Regions from separate parts of the Homo sapiens genome. Here region 1 is linked to region 2. Evidence: fine-mapped expression QTL. A gene starts in region 2. The other region holds a variant in brackets. All regions are shown on one strand. Distances are from middle to middle. Region 1 overlaps LINC00254 (long intergenic non-protein coding RNA 254). Region 2 holds the start of RPL3L (ribosomal protein L3 like).

Region 1 (5,487 bases), 79 kb before region 2:
CATCAAGAAAATACCCATAGATGGGCTGGGCGCGGTGGCTCACGCCTGTAATCCCAGCACTTTGGGAGGCCGAGGCGGGCGGATCACGAGGTCAGGAGATGGAGACCATCCTGACTAACAAGATGAAACCCCATCTCTACTAAAAATACAAAAAATTAGCCGGGCGTGGTGGCGGGTGCCTGTAGTCGCAGCTACTCCGGAGGCTGAGGCAGGAGAATGGCGTGAACCCGGGAGGCGGAGCTGGCAGTGAGCTGAGACCGCGCCACTGCACTCCAGCCTGGGTGACAGAGCGAGACTCCGTCTCAAAAGAAAAGAAAAAAGAAAAAGAAAGAAAAAACCCTAGATGTGTATATCTATGTATGAAAAATATATATATAATTAGATGTGCTAAGGATTGGACTTAGGTGAATCTGACAAAAATTTTCTCAGCTCTTCATGTTTTTAATTACTTCCATTTAGAAATCTTTTTAGTTTAATGACTTATACTAATTTTTGTTAACAGAGTACCAACCCAGGGCAAGTAAGATCCAAAAACTAAGTCCATTAAATTTGTCACCTACTACTGTCCACATGTAGCATTATTTAAGTTTCTCTTTAAAAAGAGAAGAACAACTTTGGTGCATATAACACACACATATTATAAAAGAAAAATACCACTGTAGAACCAAGTTTTATGTTATTATTAAAATACAGTTTTTCTTTTCCTCATTTTTTTTTAATTTCCCAAATAATACTGGGAAGCAAAATAAAGTACCTGCATTTCACCATTTCAAATATAATGGGAAGAGTTGGGTTTTTAAATCGTCCCTATTCCTTTCCAGTCTCTGCCTTTAAAAGAAGATATTTTTGGCCGGGGTTGGTAGCTCATGCCTGTAATCCCAGCACTTTGGGAGGCTGAGGAGGGCAGATTGCCTGAGCTCAGGCGTTCGAGGCCAGACTGGCCCAACGTGGTGAAACCCCATCTCTACTAAAAATACAAAAATTAGCCAGGCATGGTGGCGGGAGCCTGTAATCCCAGCTACTCGGGAGGCTGAGGCAGGAGAATCGCTTAAACCTGGGAGGCAAAGGTTGCAGTGAGCCAAGATTACGCCACTGCACTCCAGCCTGGGTGACAGATGGAGACTCCATCTCAAAAAAAAAAAAAAAAAAAAAACAAAAAAAAAAAACCTATCTTTATCTTTCCAAAAGAATAAACTAGTGGCCGGGGGCAGTGGCTCACGTCTGTAATCCCAGCACTTTGGGAGGCCAAGGTGGGCGGATTGCCTGAGCTCAGGAGTTGGCCACCAGCCTGGGCAACACGGTGAAACCCCATCTCTACTAAAACACAAAAAATTAGCCAGGCGTGGTGGCATGCGCCTTTAGTCCCAGCTACTCGGGAGGCTGAGGCAGGAGAATTGCTTGAACCCAGGAGGTGGAGGTTGCATTGAACCAAGATCGGGCCACTGCACTCCAGCCTGGGCAACAGAGAGAGACTCTGTCTCAAAAAAAAAAACACAAAATAACAAAATAAAATAAACTAGCATTTTAAGTCCATCTTAAAGGAGAGGAAAAAATATAAAAATAGTTTTCATGCATTTTTCATTTGAGCCTCAGTGAAGCAATAATATTCTAAAATTTTTTAAATTTTGTCACGTTTTAGTAAATTAATTTTTGCAGAAAGCTACATAAGGTTAAGCAAACAGTGTCAGCCTTGCCAGGACACAACAGGCTTCTCATAAGCCACGATGCTTCAAAATACAAGCCTAAAAGAGTGGAATTGCTTCACGCTCGTGAAATTAAGTCTCCCTTGTTGTGTACGGAATTTGTTTCTTCCATTTTTTATAGCAGTTCTGTGAAATTGGCTTGCTCTTAACAATAGGATTGACTTGTCAATATATTTTGGATGTACACGAACAGAAATAAGGACTAGAAATGCTAGCTTGCCCTTGCCGCTTGATGCAGAAGTCAAGGGTGAGCGAACAAGGGTCAGAGCTGAAATAGCTCACATGTCTGGCTAAAGAAACGGTAGTTGGCTACATGGTCAGCTCCCCAGAGCATGCCAGCTGTCAAAACATCTAGGAGCTGTCACAAAGGAGTGACAGGCAAAATATATAGTCATAAACTTTACACGTTCTAATCAGTAGAAACGTTGACAGTTATTTTAATGAATTACAAGATAGAAATTCATTAAAAATTGACAGTTATTTTAATGAATTACAAGATAAGCTTTTATTTATTTAACAAAACTATAACTTTTCCA[G/A]CATTGATCCCGTGACTATGGTCTTCCTCCCAGGAGCTGAAATACTAATAGATCAGTTACTGGCATAATTAGTCTCACCCCCACTCGTCACTCCATCAAAGGACTGATCATCTTTTTTGTTTTTCTCCCAAAACAGGGTCTCACTCTGTCACCCAGGCTGGAGTGCAGTGGCACGATCACAGTTCACTGCAGCCTCGACCTCCCTGGGCTCAGGTGATCCTCCCACCTCAGCCTCCCGTGGGACCGTAGGTGCACACCACCACGCCGGCTAAGTTTTGTATTTTTTTGTAGAGATGGGGTCTCGCTATATTGCCCAAGCTGGTCTTGAACTCCTGGACTCAAGCAATCTTCCTGCCTCAGCCTCCCAAAGCACTGGGATTATAGGCATGAACCACTGTGCCTGGCCTAATCATGTTTTAAATAGATTGTAGGCCAGGCGTGGTGGCTCACCCCTGTAATCCTAGCATTTTGACAGACTGAGGCGGGTGGATCACCTGAGGTCAGGAGTTCGAGACCAGCCTGGCCAAGATGGTGAAACCCCATCTCTACTAAAAATACAAAAATTAGCCGGCATGGTGGCACATGCCTGTAATCCCAGCTACTTGGGAGGCTGAGGCAGGAGAATCACTTGAACCCGAGAGGCGGAGGTTGCACTGAGCCAAGATTGCGCCATTGCACTGCAGCCTGGGCAACAAGAGTGAAACTCCATCTCAGAAAAAATAATAATAATAAATAAATAAATAAATAGGTTGTAGATACACTAACATTTACAGATTTTTTGTAAACTTTTGCAGAAGTTTATGTAGAGAAGAGGAGTGAGGTAACCTGCAAAAGGGACTGGAAGAACTAGATGTGGAAATCGTGTTTAGGGCCAAAAAGAAGCAATTTAAGAGCTACTGGAGGCCGGGCGTGGTGGCTCACACCTATAATCCCAGCACTTTGGGAGGCCAATGTGGGCGGATCACCTGAGGTCAGGAGCTGGATACCTACCTGGGCAACGTGGCGAAACCCCGTCTCTACTGAAAACACAAAAATGTATTGTGGTGGCAGGTGCCCGTAATCCCAGTTACTCGAGAGGCTGAAGCAGGAGAATTGCTTGAACCTGGGAGGTGGAGGTTGCAGTGAGCCGAGATCGCGCCACTGCGCTCCAGCCATTTGCAGCATTGCCAAGTATGTAAAGCTCAGCTCCTAAGCTCTTTTAAGACTCCGTCTCAAAAAAATAAATAAATAAATAAAAATTTTAAAAAAGGTTGAACGGTGAATTGAAACTGGAACTGAAAGCCTCAGGACAAGGTGAGAGGTGCTGAGCTGAAGTGAGTAACGTGCTGGGCTTGAAATAACTCAGCATCCGTAGTCCGTGCCCAGGGACCTGGAGTGGTTCCTGCGTGCTGCATGTCTGGCACCCCGTACTAGAGGGAGCAGAAGAGGGCATGAGCACACAAGGCACAGGCTTTGACCTTTGGAAGCCTATCCCATGGGAAATTTACTGAGGTGACAACAGAAGGAAGGGCCCATGTCTTGGGAGTGCTGTCATGGCCATGTTTCAGCACCATTTATATTAAACACACACACACACACACACACACACACACACACACATATATTTTTTTTTTTTTTTTTGAGATAGAGTCTCGCTCTGTCACAAAGGCTGGAGTGCAGTGGCACAATCCTGACTCACTGCAACCTCCACCTCCCGGGTTCCAGCGATTCTCCTGTCTTGGCCTTCCAAGTAGCTGGGATTACAGGTGCGCGCCACCACACCCAGCTAATTTTTGTATTTTCAGCAGAGACAGGGTTTCACCACGTTGGCCAGGCTGCTCTTGAACTCCTGATCTCAAATAATCTGCCCTCCTCAGCCTCCCAAAGTGCTGGGATTACAGGCATAAGCCACCGCGTTCAGCCATAAACACATATAATTTTTTAAACCCTCCTAAATCATTGCAGCGTACCTTTGCCAGCTATGTGGCCATTAACAACATCTCTGACCGAGCTGTTCCAGCCCCACCTTGCCAGCCGTCTGCAGCATTGCCAAGTATCTAAAGTTCAGCTCCTAGGCTCACCCCAAGCCAGCTCAGAACCTTCCAATTCTATGGAAAACACCTGGTAACTGAAGCTCAGCGTCTCAAAGGCAGCCTTGAATCCTCCCTTCTCCTCCACTGTCATCATCAGGAGCCAGGTTCTGTTTTTCCTTAGCACCTGCCCTTGTCTCTCCACGTCTGTTGCTGCCACCCTCCTGCGGCTCTGGCAGTGTTGTCAGGGGATGGAGCAGCACGCTGCAGGGGCTCTCATCTCCCCTGCCCCAGCCCATCTCATGCCCTCAGAGGGATGAATCTTACCACATGACGCTTCTCAGGGCTGCACCACAGCTTTCCCTAGGCGGAAACCTCCAATGCTATCTATCACAGGGGCACAAATTCTTCTGTAAGTTGCTATATGTAAAGGGCTTTGTGGGCCAGACAGTATCTGTTGCAATGAACCAACTCTACTCTACTTTTATTTATTTTATTTTATGTATTTATGTATGTATTTATTTATTTGTGTTTTGAGACAGGGTCTTGCTCTGTCACCCAGGCTGGAGTCCAGTGATGTAATCACAGCTCACTGCGACCTGAAACTCCCAGGTTCAAGTGATCCTCCCACGTCAGCCTCCCGAGTAGCTGGGACTACGGGCGTGCCCCCACCACACCCAGCTAATTTACTGTATTTTTTGTAGAGACAGGATCTCCCTAGGTTCCCCAGGCTGGTCTCGAACTCCTGGGCTGAAGCGATCCTCCCACCTCTGCCTCCCAAAGTGCTGGTGTTATAGGCGTGAGCCACCGCACCCGGCCAGGCTTTGTTCTTTATGGGGCTTATTTACATGGTTAAGGGTTTGCTCAGAGCTTGAGAACCTATTTATATTGTTCTCATATTTCGCAAATGTTTAAGGAAGCAAGAGAAAACTGCGAGTGCAAAAGACCAATTTCAGTTTTTAAAATTATCACTCTGAGAAAAGGACAATAGATATTTCTTAACCTGCTTAATTTCAGTGTTTATTAATCAGAGTGCTTTTATCTTAGCAGTGTTATTGCGCAGTTGTCTGAAATGAGAAAATAAATGGGGTTTAGGAGGAGTTAACATGCATGGTAGAAACTAAAAGTCAGGCTGTCTGGTCAAAAGTCTCAGCCTTGCCACTAATTAGCTGTGTCACTCAAGCATCTGAACTTCATTTTCCTTATCTGTCAAAAATGAAAAGTTTGGACAGATCCAGT
Region 2 (5,248 bases):
CTCAGCTCACTACAATCTCCACCTCCCAGGCTCAAGCGATTCTCCTGCCTCAGCCTCCCAAGTAGCTGGGATTACAGGTGTCTGCCACCACGCCCAGCTTATTTTTTTATTTTTATTTTTTTTTTTGTATTTTTAGTAGAGACGGGTTTTCACCATGTTGGCCAGGCTGGTCTCGAACTCCTGACCTCAAATGAGCCACCCGCCTTGGCCTCCCAAAGTGCTGGGACTACTACAGTCGTGAGCCACCACAAGCCGCCCAAATTAGCCTTTTAATTAACCCTGAGGATTAGAATATTTGTTTCCTCTTTTTCCTCCATCCTGATTTCATCTCCAGCCTTCTAGTACTCATGTTTTTTGTTTTTTGTGTTTTTCTTGAGATTGAGACAGGGTTTCACTCTGCCACCCAGGCTGCAGTGCAGTGGCACGATCTCAGCTCACTGCAACCTTCACCTCCCAGTTCAAGTGATTCTCCCACCTCAGCCTCCTGAGTAGCTGGACTACAGGTGCGCACCACCCCAGCCAGCTAATTTTTGTATTTTTTGGTAGAGATGGGGTTTCACCATGTTGGCCAAGCTGGTCTCAAACTCCTGACCTCAAGTGATCCACCCGCCTCGGCCTCCCAAAGTGCTGGGATTACAGGCGTGAGCCAGCACGCCCAGCCTACTCATCTTTTATTGAAATGAAGGCAACCACACAACACACACACACACACACACAGACACTCCTACCTCCCACAGACGGTTGAGACTTCGCTTCCTACTCACCCACACCTATCATTTCAGCAAGAGCTAGAGCCTCAGGCACCCAACTTCTGTGGTCCCAGCAGCCCTTGGACGGCCCAGCCAAGGGCGGTGCTCACCAGTCCTTGTAGAATCGGCGCCGGCACTCATCACTGAGGTGTTCTGCAAAGATGGTCTTGAAGCTCCGGAGACCTCGAGGGGTGGCCACGTAGCCCACCACGCCCACCACCACTAGGGGCGGCGTTTCTACAATTGTCACCGCCTCCACCTCCTCCCGTTTGGAAATTTCTGGATGAGACACAGGGATGGGGCATGAAGGGGGACCTCCTGAGGCCTGTGGGGGAGGGAGTGGAGAGCCGCCCACATAGGGGCAGGACAGGAGAGTGTGGGGCCAGCCAGGACAGCATTCCCCAGAGGGTGGGGCTGAGCCCAAATGAGCATTTGTTATTCTAATGATTACAATGGATTTCTTTTTCTGTTTTTGAGACAGGGTCTCACTCTGTCACCCAGGCTGCAATGCAGTGGTGCAATCATAGCTCACTGCAGCCTTGACTTCCCAAGCTCAAGTGATCCTCCCACCTCAGCCTCCCAAGTAGCTGCGACTACAGGCACTCGCCACAACGCCCAGCTAATTTTTGTATTTTTTGTAGAGATAGGGTTTCACGATGCCGTCCAGGTTGGTCTGCAACTCCTGGCCTCAAATGATCCTCCTGCCTCGGCCTCCCAAAGTGCTGGGATTACAGGCGTGAGCCACCATGCCCGGCCTGCATTATTTCTTACAACTACTTGTGAATCTACGATTAAAACAACAAAAACTAACTATATACATAGGCGTACATATGAAATAATGGTACATGAAATAGACCCGAAATGGCCAAAAAGTGCAGATGTCCTGGCAGGTGGTTTGAACCGAGGGCTTGGGGCGCTGGCCTTTGAATCCTAGCTCCTGCGCTTACCGCCCCGGTGACTGGACCAGGTTCCTCACTGCTTTGTGCCTCAATGTCCTCATCTGCGAGCTGGGGCCATGACAGAACCCGCCCGGAAGCCCTGCCTGTGCTCAGCGTCCACCCCAATTCCCGGGGGCGAGGCCTGGTGCTCCCTGGGACTGTGGCCCTGTCTGGACCAAAAGCGTGAGTTCTGGCTCCGAGCATCTGGAAGGTTCAGCCCTCCCCCTCCCCCAAGGGTCCCAACTGTGACTCACTGAGCCCCGGCCGGTGCACCTCCCGCAGGGTGTGGGTCATGCCCGCCTTGTAGCCCAGGAAGGCCGTGAGGTGCACGGGCTGGCTGGGGTCATCCCGCGGCCACGTCTTCACCTTGCCCCGGTGCCGGTGGCTCCTCTTATGGGGCAGGAAGCCCAGGTGTCCGTGCCGAGGGGCGGAAAACTTCCGGTGGGACTGGGGGGCAGGAAGGAAGGAGGTCAGACCTGGGGTGTCCCTGGTGGTAGAGCTGGATGGTCCCAGAACCCATACCTGGAGAAATGGACTACAGGCTTCAGACTGAGGCCTGTGCTCAGCACCTCCCCTGTCTGCCTACAGGAGGGGAGAGGAAGGTTCACCAAGGGGCAGCGTCTTTGGGATGGGGTCTCCATAGCCACAGGCTTCCTGCCTCTGTGGGCTCAGCCTGGGGCCCAGGAGGGTCGCACCCATACTGCAGCCAAGGGCTCCTGGGGCAGGTGGCCGCTGCCATCTGTTCATCTCCAGGGCCCTCCCAGGCCCAGGAGCCCAGCCCTCGTCCCCTTGTTTCCCCCTCCAGCCTCCCATCCCCTCACAGGCTGGGAGACTGTCCCTCTGAGGGAGCATCCAGAAGCCCAGCTGTCCCACCCCCCCAGAGTTCCAGCTCCAACCCCAGCCCACCCTCACCCTGGTCCCACCAACCATGGTGGCCGATCCCTGAAGGTCAGGAAGGGGCCTCGCCGCTAGCCGCCAGAGGTCGAGTGGCAGGGCCAGGACTCACAGCTGCCAGTTCCCAGATTAGCCCCTGGCACAGTCAGCAGGGTCTCCGGTGCCAGGAGCAGGCAGGGGCGGGGCAGTGTTGGGGGCATCAGATAGACAGCCTGAGTGGGGCACCCGGAGCCAGGGCTGGCACTCCTTTCCTCGATGGCCCTGGGGCTGGGTCATGACCCTCCCAGGACAGGACTGGCCAGGCAAGGTGGGGGCCAAGGTAGCCGGTGGGGGCCTTCTCCCAGGCAGCGGCCAAGAGGAGGGGTCTGGAGCAGTTTGCCGACTTGGAGGCAGAGGGGGTTCCTGTCCTGAGGGCTGGGAGACAGCTGGATAAACAGCGGGGAGCAGGGCTGGGGACAGGGCAGACGAGGGGGAGGGCTGACTGCACCTTGAGGATCACCAGAGCTGTGCTTCCAGATTGAGATCCCTGGCTGAGTGCAGTGGCTCATGCCTGTAATCCCAGCACTTTGGGAGGCTGAGGCAGGAGGATCACTTGAGCCCAGGATGTCAGGCCGCAGTGAACCTTGACTGCACTCCAGCCTGCGTGACTGAGCGAGACACTGTCTTAAAAACAAAAAAAAAGCCAGCCTGGCCAACATGGTGAAACCCCATCTCTACTAAAAATATAAAAATTAGCCGGGCGTGGTGGTGTGGGCCTGTTAATTCCAGCTACTTGGGAGGCTGAGGCAGGAGAATCACTTGAACCTGGGAGGCAGAGGTTGCAGGTTGCAGTGAGGCGAGATCGCGCCGCTGCACTCCAGCCTGGGCAATAGGGTAAGACTCCGTCTCAAAAAAAAAAAAAAAATCAAGATCTGACTCCTGTCATTCACAATCATTGAAATACTTTTATGAATTTATCTTTTTTATTTTTTTGAGATGGAGTCGCTCTGTTGCCCAGGCTGGAGTGCAGAGGCGTGATCTCGGCTCACTGCAAGCTCCCCCTCCCGGGTTCACACCATTCTCCTGCCTCAGCCTCCCAAGTAGCTGGGACTACAGGCGCCTGCCACCACACCCGGCTACCTTTTTGTATTTTTGGTAGAGACGAGGTTTCACTGTGTTAGCCAGGATGTTCTCGATCTCCTGACCTTGTGATCTGCCTACCTCAGCCTCCCAAAGTGCTGGGATTACAGGCATGAGCCACCGCGCCTGGCCTTATTTAAAGAGACAATGTCTCATTCCATGGCTCAGGCTGGAATGCAGCGGTGTGATCATACCTCACTTGCAGCCTCAACCTTTTGGGCTTAAGTGGTCCTTCTGCCTCAGCAGGACCTAATTTTTAAATGTGTCTTGTTGTAGAGGCGGGCGTCTCACCATGTTGCCTAGGCTGGTCTGAAACTCCTGGCCTCAAGTGATTCTCCTGCCTCAGCCTCTCAAAGTGCTGAGATTACAGGTATAAGCCACAGCACCTGGCCAAATTTAAATTTTGAATTTAAGTTTTGAATGAAGAGGGGGTTGAAATCTTATTTTTTTTTCTTTTTTTTTTTTTTTTTTTGAGACAGGGTTTCTCTCTGGTGCCCAGGCTAAAATGTAGTGGCACAGTAATAGCTCACTGCAGCCTCAGTCTCCTGGGTTCAAGCAATCCTCCTGCCTTCATCCCCCTGAGTAGCTGAGACCACAGGCACTTACCACCATGCCTCACTAATTTTTGTATTGTTTATAGAGATGGGGATCTCATTATGTTGCCCAGGCTGGTCTCGAACTCCTGAGCTCAAGCAATCTGCCTGCCTTGGCCTCCTAGAGTGCTAGGATTACAGATGTGAGCCACTGCGCCCCTCAAAATCTTTTTCAATTCAAAGATTCTATGGTTGTAAAGTTTTGTTTTTTTTGTTTTTGTTTTGAGATGGAGTCTCATTCTGTTGCCCAGGCTGGAGTTCAGTGGCACAATCTCGGCTCACTGTAACCTCTGCTTCCTGGGTTCAAGCTATCCTCCTGCCTCAGCCCCACTAGTAACTGGGATTACAGGTGTGTGCCACCATGCCCAGCTGATTTTTGTATTTTTAGTAGAGATGGGGTTTTGCCATGTTGGCCAGGCTGGTCTTAAACTCCTGACCTCAGGTGATCCACCCGCCTCGGCCTCCCAAAGTGCTGGGATTACAGGTGTGAGCCACCCCGCCCAGCCAGTTGTAAAGTTCTATAGCAGTGGAATTCTAGAGTTTTTCAGGCCTATGACATCTCTAAGATACGTGGTTCTTACATCAATAGATACTAAGATTCTAGGCTACTAAAATGTCAAGATTGTTTGGGTCTCATGGTTCATATTTCTTTCCAAGACTTTGGCCAGGCACAGTGGCTCATGTCTGTAATCTCAGAACTTTGGGAGGCCGAGGTGGGCAGATCACGTAAGGTCAGGAGTTTGAGACCAGAAACATGGTGAAACCCTGTCTCTACTAAAAATACAAAAAATTAGCCGGGCGTAGTGGCAGACACCTGTAGTCTCAGCTACTCAGGAGGCTGAGACAGGAGAATCACTTGAAACTGGGAGGAGGAGGAGGTTGCAGTGAGCCGAGATTACGCGCTGCACTCCAGCCTGGGCAACAGAGCGAGAGAACTGTCTCAAAAAAAAAAAAA

The links. PIP is the estimated chance that this variant, and not a neighbour inherited with it, causes the effect. A credible set is the group of variants that fine-mapping cannot tell apart.
Region 1: its variant is the best candidate, but not a certain one, in a credible set for the expression of RPL3L in whole blood (TOPMed, PIP 0.80).

The regions. Positions count from the first base shown.
Region 1 is chr16:1,873,039-1,878,525 of GRCh38, forward strand. LINC00254 (long intergenic non-protein coding RNA 254) reads right to left here. Exons shown (of 3, transcript NR_033914.1): 3 at 5,247-5,487. Among named protein-coding and RNA genes, the nearest start is that of MEIOB, 3.6 kb to the left of the region's middle. The variant G/A (reference allele first, on the strand shown) is at 2,240.
Region 2 is chr16:1,952,015-1,957,262 of GRCh38, forward strand. RPL3L (ribosomal protein L3 like) reads right to left here and starts at 2,675. Exons shown (of 10, transcript NM_005061.3): 1 at 2,615-2,675; 2 at 1,942-2,134; 3 at 860-1,028. The coding sequence starts at 2,617. RefSeq lists an enhancer at 1,390-2,379.